2 linked regions of the Homo sapiens genome follow. The protein of the gene in region 2 interacts with the protein of the main gene of each other region in a biochemical or structural test. Each region holds a gene or a part of one and is shown on either strand. Other genes may lie near its edges.

Region 1 (3,729 bases), on a different chromosome or scaffold from region 2:
TGGCTTAAGCCTGTAATCCCAGCACTTTGGGAGGTTGAGGTGGGCAGACCACCTGAGGTCAGGAGTTCGAGACCAGCCTCGCCAAAATGGCAAAACCCTGTCTCTACTAAAAATACAAAAAAATTAGCTGGGCGTGGTGGCGCGTGCCTGTAGTCCCAGCTACTAAGGAGGCTGAGGCACGAGAATCGCTTGAACCTGGGCGGCAGAGGTTGCAGTGAGCTGAGATTGCGCCACTGCACTCCAGCCTGAGCGACAGAGCGAGACTCCGTCTCAATTAAAAAAAAAAATCAATCCTCTTTGGTTTAATGTAAGGTCAAAATTTAAGCATGGGCTTGTGTGATTCTATAGCTCATCTTCTCTTCTTTCACGATGTTACCTTTGATAATAACTAACATATGTAATGTGCTTTACAATTTAGAATGTTTTCATATATGGAATCTAATTTAACCTACATAATATATCATAGGCCTCATCTGAAATATGAGGAAACAGTAGTTCTGACTGTTACTCATCAAAGGTCATGCACCCAGTGATTATGACCAATATAGGTCTAAGGAAATTACTACAAGGATTACTGGCAGAAGGGACAGTCCAATGAGGTAGCAGAAAATGTTAGGCTTCCTTCCCTTTCAAGGCCTAAAAAATTAGCTAGAACCATAGAAAGGTTAAGTCACATGGTAATATATGCTGAGATGTCTGTGTTTTTTTTTTCTTTTCTTTATTTTTGAGATGGAGTCTCACTCTGTCATCCAGGCTGGAGTACAGTGGCATGATCTCAGCTCACTGCAACCTCCACCTCCCAGGCTCAAGTAATTTTCCTGCCTCAGCCTCCTAAGTAGCTGGGATTGCAGAGGCATGACCCAGCTTTTTTTTTTTTTTTTTTTTTTGTATTTTTTTAGTAGAGATGGGGTTTTGCTCTGTTGGTCAGGCTGGTCTTGAACTCCTGACCTCAAGTGATCCACCTGCCTCGGCCACCCAAAGTGCTGGGATTTCAGGTGTGAGCCACTGCGCCCAGCCAGATGTCTGTATTTCTGTATTTAAGGTGAATAAGATGATTACAGAAATAAGAATAAAATTTCAAACCATAATATTTTATAAGTACCAGGGAATGCACAATGGCAGCAGCCTTGTCCGGTTTAAGAAATCAGCTTTAATCCACTTGGTTCAACATCTGACCATCTGAGATCAAGCTATTCTCAGTCTGTACAGGTAAACGTGACTTTTCACTATGACCCATATCCTCGAAAATACATAAAACTATATCATAACAAGGTGAATCACATGTATCCATAACAAAGACTGGGTACCAAATCATACCAAAATCAAATCCCAAAATGTATCAAACAGCAGAGCTACAAATGTATCACAATTTAAAACAATAAAAGCCCATGCCAAGTCCTGCAAAATGGACATAAGTATGTTTTTATCATATAAAGGATAACCTATTATTAACCACATACAGAGCAGATAAAATATATAATCCATAAATTTGGCCTCAAATTCCTGTTTTTGTTTTTTGAGATAGGGTCTTGCTCTGTCCCCCAAGCTGGAATGGGGTGCCCTGATCTTGACTCACTGCAACCTCCACCTCCTGGGCTCAAGTGATCCTCCCACCTCAGCCTCCAGAGTAGCTGGGATTACAGGTGCACGCACAACCATGCCCAGTTAATTTTTCTATTTTTAGTAGAGATAGCATTTTACCATGTTGCCCAGGCTGGTCTTGAACTCCTGGACTCAAGGGATCTCCCTGACTTGGCCTCCCAAAGTGCTGGGATTAAAGGCATGAGCCACCATGCCTGGCCTGGGATTGTTATGTGGAATTTTTTTCCTTGACAAAATCTCAGATAATCAGGCTTAAAAACTATTATAATGGGTTTTGAATCGTTGGAATCAACTAGTCCTTAAGCCCAGCCACCCTGGGTTTTTTGTTTGTTTGTTTGCTTGTTTGTTTGTTTTGAGACAGGGCCTCACTCTTGTCACTCAGGCTAGAATGCAGTGGTGCCCTCATGGCTCACTGCCACCTTGACCTCCCGGGCTCAAGCGATCTTCACAGGCGCGTGCCATCACATCCAGCTAATTTTTTTATTATTGGTAGAGACGGGGTCTCACGATGTTGCCCAGGCTGGTCTCAAACAATCCTCCCACCTCAGCCTCCCAAAGTGCTGGGCTTACAGGTATGAGTCACCATGCCTGACCCTGTTACTTTACAGATGAAGAAAGTGCAGTATAAAATAATACACTGGATAAATAAAAAATGTATTTTGAAAGACTTCAGGCTGGGCGCAGTGGCTCATGCCTGTAATCCCAGGACTTTGGGAGGCCAAGGCAGGTGGATGACCTGAGGTCAGGAGTTCGAGACCAGCCTGGCCAACATGGTAAAACACTATCTCTACTAAAAATAGAAAAATTAACTGGGCATGGTTGTGCGTGCGCCTGTAATCCCAGCTACTTGGGAGGCTGAGGCAGGAGAATCACTTAAACCCAGGAGGCAGAGGTTGCAGTGAGCTGAGATTGCACCAATGCGCTCCAGCCTGGGCAACATGAGCAAAACTCCGTCTCAAAAAAAAAAAAAAAAAAAGGCCAGGTACGGGGGCTCACACCTGTAATCCCAATACTTTGGGAGGCCAAGGCGGGCGGATCACAAGGTCAGGAGTTCAAGACTAGCCTGGCCAACATGGGGAAACCATGCCTCCACTAAAAATACAAAAATTAGCCGGGCGTGGTAGCACATGTCTATAATCCTAGCTACTCAGGAGGCTCAGGCAGGAGAATCACTTGAACCCAGGAGGCGGAGATGCAGTGAGCTGAGATTGTGCCACTGCACTCCAGCCTGGGGGACAGAGTGAGACTCTGTCTAAAAAACCAAACCAAACCAAAAAAAAAAAAAAGACTGCTGGGCGCAGTGGCTCACACTTGTAATCCCAGCACTTTGGGAGGCTGAGGCGGGCTAATCACGAGGTCAGGAGATGGAGACCATGGTGAAACCCCGTCTCTACTAAAAATACAAAAACATTAGCCAGGCGTGGTGGCGGGCACCTGTAGTCCCAGCTACTTAGAGAGGCTGAGGTAGGAGAATGGCATGAACCCAGGAGGCGGAGGTTGCAGTGAGCTGAGATCGCACCACTGCACTCCAGCCTGGGCGACAGAGCGAGACTCCGTCTCAAAAAAAAAAACAGAAATGTTAACTATAGAATGTTGAAGGGGGGGGGGGGATTAAAACAACCTGTAGACAATATGATCGTCATTATTCTATTTCATAAATTTTCTATAATAAACACATATCTCTGGCCAGGCACGGTGGTTCATGCCTGGAATCCCAGCACATTGGGAGGCCGAGGCGGGCAGATCACATGAGGTCAGGAGCAAGACTCCGTCTCAGAAAAATAAATAAATACATAAAATAAAATAAGCCAGGTGTGGTAGCACACCTGTAGTCCCAGCTACTTGGGAGGCTGAGGCAGAAGAATCGCTTGAACCTGGGAGGCGGAGGTTCAGTGAGCCAAGATCTCACCACTGCACTCCAGCCTGGGTGACAGAGCTAGACTCTGTCTGAAAAATATATATATTATATATGTAATATATTTTACATATTATATTGTGTTATATATTATATATATTTTACATATATTGTATTATATATTATATATAATATATTATACATGTAATATATTATATACTATATTATATATATCATACATTATTATATACATATTATATATTTTGATATTA
Region 2 (3,729 bases):
ACTTAGTATTTATTCCTTTTAATAATATAAAATTCTGCAAAGATTCTGCTCTACATTTCACTATACCAAGTTCTATTACTTACAACGGCTGGGTGGGCTGATGTCCATTACGGTCAAAGTAGGATTGTCTATGTCACTTCCCCTTCTTCTTATTCGACTATCATCATACTCTGGGGTAAAGATACTGCTTCCACTACTAGTGCTTAAGGAATGATCAGTAGGACTGAAACTCACAGGAGACCGTAAGCTGGTCCCCTGGGTCCTTCTAGCTCTTGGAAAAGTTTTACGACCTAAAAAATGAAAAGAGAATGACCTTATACCTTTTATTAATATGTTATACTTTTAAAGTATTTAAAATTTGTAATGTAGAGAATAGAAATTTGTCCTGTGACTAGGCTAAGAAACTCAAATAGGAATGATTGGGTGGGAAAAAATAAACAGGATCTGAATACAAATTCAAATAATCTCTTATGATAAAACATGTATGAGTGTGCACACAGAAACATACACACACACATCTTAAAAAGGAACCTCCTCACTTCTGGATAAAAAGGAGGAAAAAAATTTACTCTCATTTCCAATAATGATTTTAAAATCTAAAACAAAGATGCAGAAGTTCACAGGTAGTAATTTTTTTCTTTTCTTTTTGAGATGGAGTTTCACTCTTGTTGCCCAGGCTGGAGTGCAGTGGTACAATCTCGGCTCACTGCAACCTCCGCCTCCAGGGTTCAAGCGATTCTCCTGTCTCAGCCTCCCAAGTAGCTGGGATTACAGGCGCCCACCACCATGCCCAGCTAATTTTTTGTATTTTTAGTAGAGACGGGGTTTCATCACGTTGGCCAGGCTGGTCTCATACTCCTGACCTCAGGTGATCCACCCGCCTCGGCCTCCCAAAGTGCTGGGATTACAGGCATGAGCCACCGCACCTGGCCAGTAATTTTTTTTCTTAAAGGGATGATGTAAGTATCAATCTCATCATCAAAGAGTAATTTTCTAATATCATTTAAAAGTTACTCCTTTTGGATGGGTGCAGTGGCTCATGCCTGTAATCCCAGCACTTTGGGAGGCCAAGGCAGGCAGATCACTTGAGCCCAGGAGTTCGAGACCAGCCTGGGCAACATGGCAAAACCCCATCTCTACTAAAAATACAAAAATTAGGCCGGGCACGGTGGCTCACGCCTGTAATCCTAGCACTTTGGGAGGCCAAGGCAAGTGGATCACTGGAGATCAGGAGTTTTGAGACCAGCCTGGCCAACATGGCAAAACCCCATCTCTACTAAAAATACAAAAATTAGCCAGGTGAGAATCGCTTGAACCCAGGAGGTGGAGGGTGCAGTGAGCAGAGATCATGCCACTGCACTCCAGCCTGGGTGACAGAACAGAGTGAGACTCTGTCTCAGGGGAAAAAAAAAAAAGAAAGAAAGAAAATTACTCCTTCTTGGCCAAGTGCAGTGGCTCACACCTGTAATCCCAGCACTTTGGGAGGCTGAGGCAGGAGGACCGCTTGAGCCCAAGACTTCAAGACCAGCCTGGGCAACATGGTGGGACACTGTCTCTACAAAAAAAATTTTTTAATTAGCTGGGTGTGATGGCAAATGCCTGTAATGGCACACACCTGAACTCAGGAAGCCAAGGCAGGAAGATCACTTGAGCCCAGGAATTTAAAGTTACAGTGAGCTAAGATCATGCCACAGCACTCCCGCCTGGGCAACAAAACCTTGTCTCTTAAAACAAAAAATTATTCATTTTCTTTTAAGGGATAACCAAGTCTTATAAGTTGTCATAAAGCCAAAATGCCCATTATACTTTTGTTATAACACAATTCCTCATATTTTTCTAATGGTATTAACACAAATATGAGGTTTTAAAAAATTTTTGTATTTATTTTTGTTGTTGAGATTTTTTAACTATTCTTGTGGTCTAATTGCTAGAAACTTACCATCATTATACTCTTGATGATGATATGAAACATGATACCTTCTTGGATATGTTCCTCCTTTTCCAAATTTCTCAAAGATAGGGTTATCATAGTCTGTTAAGACATATAAGATGGTTATCTTTTATTTAAAAAAAAAAGTTAAATATTTCTAATGATGAAAAGCACATTTATAAATCTTTATTTGACTTTTCAAAAATCCCCCCTCTCCCTCCCAGCCAAAACATTATCCAATGACATAAACATTTAAACATTTAGAATTTATAAAGTCTAACCTGAAAATTCCTGATGATTATCTGGGTAGCTCTGAGCCCTAGGCATTCGTGATTTTGGATAGCTCTCTCTATAAAGAAAAAACATCACATTAAGTTTACAGAAAGAACGTAAGACATTAAAAAGAAAATCTTTGAGCAATATCTATATCTATCTGTGCCTCTCTGTATGTGTTTGTGTAAAGGAGCTCACTTTGAAAGGTTAGCATACCTAAAAAAGAAAAACTACACTTACTTGGTACATGTAGGCAAAGAGCATGACTTAAAATTAACCTTACAGTACAGTGGAAGAATGACGTATTTTGGAATCATTAGGTGTTTCTAAGCACTGTGTTTCAATCCAAGCTCTGCCACTTAACTATGTAACCTTGGCAAATCACCCTTCTGCATCAACAAAAAAGATAATTTCCAACTATTCAAGTGTACATAAGTAAGGTATCCAGGATAGTGTTTTGCAAATGGTAAGTACTCAAATATATAGCTTTCTCGTTACTACTTCCCTGAATTTCTTAAATGTCTACCTTAAGATAGACATTGACACAGACAGAAATTTCATATACATGGATAAAAGAAACTTAAATGTGCATTCCCACGCAATATTAGTTATTTTTTTCAGAATTTGCTTTCATAAAGCAATTCCAGAGAGGATTACCAAGAATACTGTCCTATTGAGACCAGGAGGGGGAGCACGTGTAACAAAAAATTCACATTTTGCAACTTTATCCTGCTCATATTCCTGAACAGCTTTTTCACAAAAGTACTTAAATTTTTGCCTACATGTACCAATGTGACACAGTGGGCTACAATTTCCAAGAATTTAAATTATTTCTAATCTGGTGCCAGAATGAACATAATCCTGAACAGGTGAAATAACTCAGGAAATTTCCAAAACCAAACATATTAATGTAAAAGTTGATAGCACTTTTCATAAACACAGTTTTAAAAGTAAATGTACATAAATTCTAAATTTGATTTGCCTTCAAACACACAATTTTGACAAGCAGGAATACTCAAACTATTATAATCAGATTTCCTTTTAACTAACAAAGATACTGAGTCCCATGAGGTAAAGGGATTTATCCACACTGTGCAAAAATTCATCTGCCGTCATCATACACAAGTACCAATTCTATTCCTCTGAATGTAGCACAAAAAAGTTACTGATAATTCAACATTCTATCTGTATGAATATTTACTCATATCTATTAAAAAAGAAAACTACAGTAAGCTGAGCATGGTGGCTCATGTGTGTAATCCCAGCGCTTTAGGAGACCAAGGCAGGAGGTTCGCTTGAGCCCAGGAGTTCAAGATCAGCCTGGGTAACAAAGTGAGACCCCCATCTCTACAAATAATACAAACAAAATAGCCAGATGTGGTATTAATAGCAAATGCCTTTGGTCCTAGTTCCTCGGGGGTCAGAGGTGGGAGGACTGATGGAGCCAAGGAGGTCAAGGCTGCAGTAAGCCGCATTCACGCCACTGCGCTCCAGCCTGGGTGACAGCAAAACTCTGTCTCAAATAA

The links. The genes of interacting proteins can lie anywhere in the genome.
Region 1: of the proteins of MAP3K2 (region 2) and XIAP, one has a biochemical effect on the other in vitro, tested with the Homo sapiens proteins (2 studies listed by BioGRID, with this or other methods).

What each region holds. Positions count from the first base shown.
Region 1 is NC_000023.11:123,866,521-123,870,249, reverse strand, and holds part of XIAP (E3 ubiquitin-protein ligase XIAP), read right to left. Parts: intron 1-3,729.
Region 2 is NC_000002.12:127,321,963-127,325,691, forward strand, and holds part of MAP3K2 (mitogen-activated protein kinase kinase kinase 2), read right to left. Parts: intron 2,280-3,729; coding exon 2,212-2,279; intron 2,033-2,211; coding exon 1,940-2,032; intron 291-1,939; coding exon 84-290; intron 1-83. UniProt on the Homo sapiens protein: Component of a protein kinase signal transduction cascade. Regulates the JNK and ERK5 pathways by phosphorylating and activating MAP2K5 and MAP2K7. Plays a role in caveolae kiss-and-run dynamics.